Homo sapiens: one gene and its partner. The protein of the gene in region 1 purifies or fractionates together with the protein of each later gene. This does not show direct contact. Each region holds a gene or a part of one and is shown in the gene's direction. Other genes may lie near its edges.

Region 1 (3,829 bases):
TATTTGATCTTCGGAATACAAGCCAAAAGATGTTCGTAAATACAAAAGCTGTTCAGGGTGTGACGGTAGACCCATATTTCCACGATCGTGTTGCTTCCTTCTATGAAGGTCAGGTTGCAATATGGGATCTTAGAAAATTTGAGAAGCCAGTTTTGACATTGACTGAGCAACCAAAACCCTTAACAAAAGTAGCATGGTGTCCCACTAGGACTGGTCTACTTGCCACTTTAACAAGGGATAGTAATATTATTAGATTGTATGATATGCAGCATACACCCACTCCCATTGGGGATGAAACTGAACCCACAATAATTGAAAGAAGTGTGCAACCTTGTGACAATTACATTGCTTCCTTTGCGTGGCATCCAACAAGTCAAAATCGAATGATAGTTGTAACTCCCAACCGAACAATGTCAGACTTCACTGTTTTTGAAAGGATATCTCTTGCCTGGAGCCCAATTACATCTTTAATGTGGGCTTGTGGTCGTCATTTATATGAATGTACGGAAGAAGAAAATGATAATTCTTTAGAAAAAGATATAGCAACGAAGATGCGTCTTCGGGCTTTATCAAGGTATGGACTTGATACAGAGCAGGTGTGGAGGAACCACATTTTAGCTGGAAATGAAGATCCACAGCTCAAGTCACTCTGGTATACTCTGCACTATATCCTTTTCATTGTGAATTTTGTGAGGTGAATCAGGTAGAAATGTTCTTGAAGTTTGCCAAAAGGTCAGTCTGTAAATATGCTCAATGTTTTATATACAAATACAAGTTACATAATACTAACATTATAAAGTAAAATTGTTCTAAACTTTCGAACTTGAAATACTGCTTTGTAGATTGTGTAGGAGGAAGAAAAGTGTATCTCTGCAATAGAGTCGAACCACCTTATTTACACTGATACTTATTATGAATTGGCTCCAAATCAAAATAAATTTAGCTTTGAAATATATTGTCATGCATCACTAGTATTTCCTATGCATTTAAATACTTATGAAGCAATACACAGAAGATATGGATCAGAAATCTCCAGGCAACAAAGGATCATTGGTTTATGCAGGAATTAAATCAATTGTAAAGTCATCGTTGGGTAAGAAAATTCTATTTCATTTTCTCCAATATGTTTATAACTTTTGTACTTTTATTTTGCCCCCTGTCATTTGGCAGAAATTATCTAGTTATTTCAGGATCATGTACATAATTTTTTTTGTTTTCTGATTGGATATTTCATTGTATTGTTGAGTTAAATGCATACTTGTATTTATATCCAAAACCCTTTTTGCAGGGAGTCTTAATTCTCTGAAGTGATGTTGATCTTCTTAAATCTATCCACACGTTTATTCAATGTTATTTTTTTGAAAACCCACTTTGAGAGGTTTTACACTAGACAATTTACAGATTACTGATTGTTAGTTCAGGTTTTATCGCAACATTTTGCTTCTTAAAAACTAAAAAGATCTCTAATTGAAGGAGATCCCTTTTTATTTTGCTCCTCAAATACTTTCATTGAGCCATCTAACAGCAAGGAGTATGATATGAAATATGGCCTAACGTGGAGGAATTATACCTGATATAGTCCTTGGTTAATTAGTGAATGAATTAATTAACGTGTGAGTTAATGTAGGATTGAAAATTGGTATGGTAAACTATTAAAGAATAAAAGTGACAAAAACCAAACTTTTTTTTTTTTCTGACTGCTTTAAACAGTTGTTCCTATTCTTTTACTGGAATTGAATAATGGGTTATATTAGAATTGCAGGTTGAGTATACCTTATCCAAAATGGCTTGGGACCAAAAATGTTTCAGATACTTTCAGATTTTGAAATATTTGCGTTATATACTTAGAGATTGACCATCCCTATTCTGAAATCCAAAATGCTCCGATGAGCATTTCCTTTGAATATCATCTCAGCACTTAGAAAGTTTCAGATTTTGAAGCCTTTTGGACTTCAGTTTTCAGATTTGGGATGCTCACCCTGTATCTCTGTGATCTAGGATTCGTTCTCTAACTTTTGGTAAGTCAAATTTGGGCCCAAGTCAAGCTGTTAGAAAAGTAGTTAACATTATTTAGTCAAAGAGCAGTAATAGAAGTAGTAAATCCAATTTGATTTTTTACGGAGCTTGTATCAGTACCATACAAACAAAATACAAAATAATAAAATATTTTAGAGTAGGTTAAGTGTTTTAATTAAACTGTTACATTATAGTGTTTTTTTAACGTCTTTCAAATTACTTTGGTTCACTTTACTGAAAGATGCAGTAGACTACTTACTGATCAGTTTGATTTTATTGTTTTTGTATTAGCCCTCCACCAAAAAAAGTAACCTTTATTATAAATAGTAAAATGAATAAGTTTAGTTAGAAGCTGCTGTTTTTATTAACATAGGTAAAAGGGCACACATACTGTTTTACTCCCACAAATGAACCTGGTACCATGGTTCAAGATTTTAGAGCCATTGCCTATTGCTACAAAGAATTAAACACCAAGTTTATAGAATTTATAGTGTTTTAGCTATATAGTAGATCAGGCCACACTGCACTCAATTATTTAGAGGTTGGTTATTGTGTTTTTTGTATTTTGATATATTTTAAGGAAAAGCCAGCATCTGAGGAAAAGCAAAAGGGGAAAATGTAATATGTTTATGTTTCTGGTGCACTAGAGACAAACTGAGTATCCCACCCCTGTGTCAAAATAGTCTCTACCCAGACTAAAGAAACACTACTGTTGGAAAGATTTCCTCATTCATCATTCTCTCATTGCTAGGTTTTCAGCTTTTTTTTTTTTGTTTGGTATAGATATTTTTGTTTCTACTACCCAAAGGTGAAAAGTAGAGAAATACTGTCAAATATGCCACTCTTAGATTTCAGTCTTCTGTTTTATTTGGCCATACCTTTTCCTCTAATTGTATCTCTAATAATCAACACATGGTAAGTCAACACATTGAGCCATCTTGTCCACAGTAACCTAATACACAAGTTTATTAGAGCATACAGCTAAATTTTAATTTTGGTAACAAATAGTATATATATAAGTGCTTGCTATGAATTAGTTGCTTTTCCCATGTTACTTTAATTTTTACAACTACAATATGAAGTAAGCTCATTCATTCAGCAAGTATTTATTACCTACATGCATGCTATATGCCAGGAGTTATCCTAGGAACTAGAGACATAACTCTCAAGAAGATACATAAATCTCTTCCCTCATGGAGATTGAGCAGGATCAATGTCATCCCTGCTCTTGAGGAGTTTATATTCTAGTTTAGAATATAGACAAGTAAGCTGGCAGTTATAACATAGGGAAGAACAGACAGTTAATTACAGGAAGGACTCCTAATCTGGTTGCAGGGATTAGAGGTTTCTCAGAGGAGGTACAGTTAAAGACAAGGTCCAGACAGGGAGCAGCATGTGCAGTGGACCCAGAGGGTAGAGAGCATAGCACATTATTATGGCTGAAACAGAGCATGAGAGAGGAAGTGAGGAAAGAATGGAGGCTAGAAAGGTAAGCAGTGGGCTAACTCAAGAAAGACTTAGAAATCATGTTAAGAATTTAGGGAGATTCATCTTGTAAGACGGGGAAACAGATGGATTTGTGACAGATTTGTGTTTTAAAAGGATCAAGATTGATAGTAGGGATATCAGATAGAAGCCTGCTGCAAGGAGGCAAGACGTGATGCTATCCTTACCAAGGTTAGTAGCAGAGGAGCTAGAGAAATGTGGATACATTAGAGAATAGGAGAAAATTTAATGATTAATTAGATAAAGGGGTGGAGAAGATGGAAAAGTCAAAGGTAGCACACATATATTTAGTTTGGGAAACTAGTTA
Region 2 (3,829 bases), on another chromosome or scaffold:
TCCAGTTTTTGAGTATTACAAATAAGGTTTCTGTGAACAGTCACATACAAGTCTTTGCTTGGATCTGTGATTTCTCTTGAGAAAATATGTAGAGGTGAAGTGACTAGGTCACATGCTAGGAATATTTGTGACTTTTAAGAAACACTACCAAATTGCTGTCCAAACTCGTTATGCCATTTTGCATTCCCATCAGCAGTGTATGAGGCTGCCACTGTAGCAGCAATTAATGTGGTCTTAAGGAAGCTTACCATGTGCTACCTACTGTAGCCTCTTCTCAGCAACAATCACAGGCTTGATGGTCTAGAAGTATTTTTTCCATACTTATTCAAATAAATGTATAATTACAAAAATAAGTTGGCCTATGGGCCGCATAAGATCATCTCACATTTCATGGATAAACTGGGAATTACAAGTGTATAATTAAATTCCTGTTCATAGTAAGTATGCTATAAATGGTAGATACCTGAGATGACAAAACTTTTATCAAACTTCATGTATTTGAAATAATAAACAGTTGTTGACATTTAATTGTATTTCACACAGGTATTTGAAAATATCTAGCTTCAAAAGCAGTTTATAAAACATTTAAAAATTAAAAATACAAATCTTCATATATGGTTTTGTTATATTAACTTTGAGAAATTACTAAATAGCACAAAGTAAGTCCTGTAGTAATTAACAGTTGTAGAATGGATTTTGTAAAACCATAATTTTATCAATGAAAACGTTAAACTTTATATTTTGTAGTTGTTTTTAGGGTAAACACATGACACTTAAATTTTTTTTTTTTTAACAGAACAAAACTCCTTTAGTTAATGAGAGCCTGAAAAAGTTTTTAAATACCAAAGACGGTAAGATGTTCAGTTTGTTCTTGTTTATCTATCTCTGAATTTTTGAATCTTGATACCATTTGGGAGAAATCAGGAATTTCAGGGCTTTTTTTTTGTCTTCAATTGTTATAGGTCCTCATTTTAAAATAATATTTTATTGTACAACAATCGTGTTGCTATTACATATTTTTGGATTTGGGATGTTGTTGCTTAAAGCCAGTTTTACTACAAAAAGCCAATATTAACCATTAAAAAGCGAAACACTGAAATCTATGAGATGATTGTCTTACAGTTAGTTACAGACTGATGATCCCAGTGAAAAAATCAGGAGATTGAGATTTTCATTACTTAATCATATTATTCAAAGAGGAAATTTGTAACTTAAAAAATTTAGAAACCTTTCTTCCATTAATTTAGTGTATCTATTTCATAATGTTAATTTAAAAAATTCAGTTTTTGAAGATTTGCTTACTTACCTTTTTCTTGATCTTTATAGGTCGTTTAGTGGCTAGTCTTGTTGCAGAATTTCTTCAGTTTTTTAACCTTGACTTTACTTTGGCTGTTTTTCAACCTGAAACTAGCACAGTAAGAATAATGATTTTTACATCTATCTTTTGAAACCTTTGATACAAATGAGTTAATATTAAGCTGAAAGTTAATAGAATTTGACAACTGATAGTTTTTTACATTTAGATTATTTTTGGTAGTTGATTATCTGTTTTTCTTAAAAGCCATATGAGCTTTCAGATAGCTGGCACCAGTGTTGCTGCTTTGTGTTACTTGAAAGCTTGCTAATAAAAGTGTTACTATAGAGTTAATTTTGATACGATGTTAGAGTGCACCTGTTAATGGAAACGTTGAAGGTAGAGGCTCTGTAAAAGAAATAGGCATAATTTTTTAAAATAGACATTTCATTCATTAGTAAGACAGTCTCTTTGAGTTTAAAGATGTCTTTAAACTCTGAAAATATCTTCTTTACTCCTTGAGAATAACTTCTGCTATTTTTTTGTGCACTTGTATTTTAACTTCTTTTCTAGCTGCAAGGTCTCGAAGGTCGAGAGAATTTAGCCCGAGATTTAGGTATAATTGAAGCAGAAGGTACTGTGGGTGGACCCTTATTATTAGAAGTGATCAGGCGCTGTCAACAGAAAGAAAAAGGGCCAACCACTGGGGAAGTAAGTAGAATTCTGTGTTATCTTTTTCTATTTTAATTATTGGCTGCTTAGTTTAGCCATGCAGATTAGTGCATATATAGTAAATTAAGGTTTTCATACTAGAAGATATTCCTTAAAAACAAAATGAGATGCATTCAGATTGTATCAATGCAAATTTTAATGAAAATTAGGAATGTGCTGACTGTGATTCTGTGGCATATCTGTTCTGGTTTTTGATCCTCAAGAGTGTTGGGTCATGAGCTAAACTGTCTGGAACAAATCCCAACTCCTCGTTGCCTCACTTGATCCTCCATTCATTCCATACTGTGTATGAAGTGGGCTCTACCAGGCCCTACCTTGGTGTTCTGAGGCTTCTCTGCATAAGCCAACAGAAGCACTCAACTTGCTATTATTTTTATTAAAACATCTTATTTAAATATAAAAGGGCTGATTTATAGGATAGTTAATAAATTTTTGGACTTAAAGGCCTCTTTAGGCTTAAAACTAAGCTGTTGATTTTGCTTTACGCTGTTTAGAAACAGTTCAAACTTACACTTTTTTGATCAGTAGTACTTTTCATACTCTTAACCTTTTTTTAGAAATTGTGCTAATGAGATTAATGATATAATTTTATTTTCATACATTAATTTTACATGAAGATACTCTGTTTTATAGATACAGGTAACATCTGTAACTGTTCCAGATATTTGATTAAATGTGAGCTTTTAGTCAGAAATTTATAGGTAAGAATGTGGAGGGCTGTATAGGTTTCCAGTTATTTTCTTTGGTGAGTCTCAGAGGATGTTTTCTATTAGAATTTTTGAAAATTGATAAAGCTTGCCTGAGTACTAATTATGTGTAAGGCATGGTAAATAGACTTTGTGGGTACTATAAGATAAAATATAAGAAACTTCTGTGTCTCTGAATAGCGCAGAGCTATTTAAGATAAAATGTGCTCAAATAAGGAAATTAACATTTAAATAACAGTTTAAGATTATGGAGGAATTGTCATTTAACACATTATTTCCAACCATATTATGAATAGTTTAGAGGAGGAAGCGATTGTCACATGCCAAAATTTTATTGAAGTCAATTTTAAAGTGAGAGTAGGATGTCAGTTGTGGGGCGAGGATTGGGAAGGGCTTTCCGAGAAGTTGGAACGGTGCCAGCCAAGCGTGGGAGCAGGAGAGCATAGCCAGATCCCAGGCTGGCTGGGAGTGAGGCGGCTCACCCAGAGCGCAGGTTGTCACTTCAGCTTGTGCATATAATTTCATTCCTTCATTTATCAATATCCAGCAAGCTTTTATTGTGCGCTTATTTGATAGATACTGTGCTGGGTACTGGGCAATCAAAAACAAACTAAAGAACCCAGTCTCCTGGGGCCAGCAGTCTGTAGGTCATGATGACCTCTCTTTATTGGCTTTCCCCTCTCGGCTTCTGTGGCCCTGAAGAACTCTCTTCTCTTTCTAACTGCCCTTTCATTTTCTTTTCTGTTTAGTAGTTGTGCTTTGGCTCACCTCATTGCAGTGGTGTTTATGCATATTTTTCTGTCTAGATTGATCTTTCTTCCTTAACATACCACTAGCATGGACTCTGGAACCAGGTTACTTGGGTGAAACCCCAGCTCTGCTACATTCTAGCTCTGTGAGCCTGCAGTCACTCAGCCTCCGTGTGCCCAGGTTCCTTATCTGCAACATGGAGATCACAGAAGTATCGCGCCTACAGGTCTGGAGGGGGTCTGAGGAAGCAAGATGTGTGAAGCTTTGAGCACAGTGCTTGGCACGGAGGACTCTGTGTGTTACTGTAGTAGGCATCAGTGGATTCAATTAACTGCGAATTGAAAAT

Evidence for each region.
Region 2: the proteins of MIOS (region 1) and CEP43 purify together in Homo sapiens (affinity purification with mass spectrometry, with the first as the bait; one large-scale study listed by BioGRID). This does not show direct contact.

Annotation. Positions count from the first base shown.
Region 1 is NC_000007.14:7,573,104-7,576,932, forward strand, and holds part of MIOS (GATOR2 complex protein MIOS), read left to right. Parts: coding exon 1-666; intron 667-994; coding exon 995-1,093; intron 1,094-3,829. UniProt on the Homo sapiens protein: As a component of the GATOR2 complex, functions as an activator of the amino acid-sensing branch of the mTORC1 signaling pathway. The GATOR2 complex indirectly activates mTORC1 through the inhibition of the GATOR1 subcomplex.
Region 2 is NC_000006.12:167,002,397-167,006,225, forward strand, and holds part of CEP43 (centrosomal protein 43), read left to right. Parts: intron 1-796; coding exon 797-851; intron 852-1,326; coding exon 1,327-1,415; intron 1,416-1,867; coding exon 1,868-2,005; intron 2,006-3,829. UniProt on the Homo sapiens protein: Required for anchoring microtubules to the centrosomes. Required for ciliation.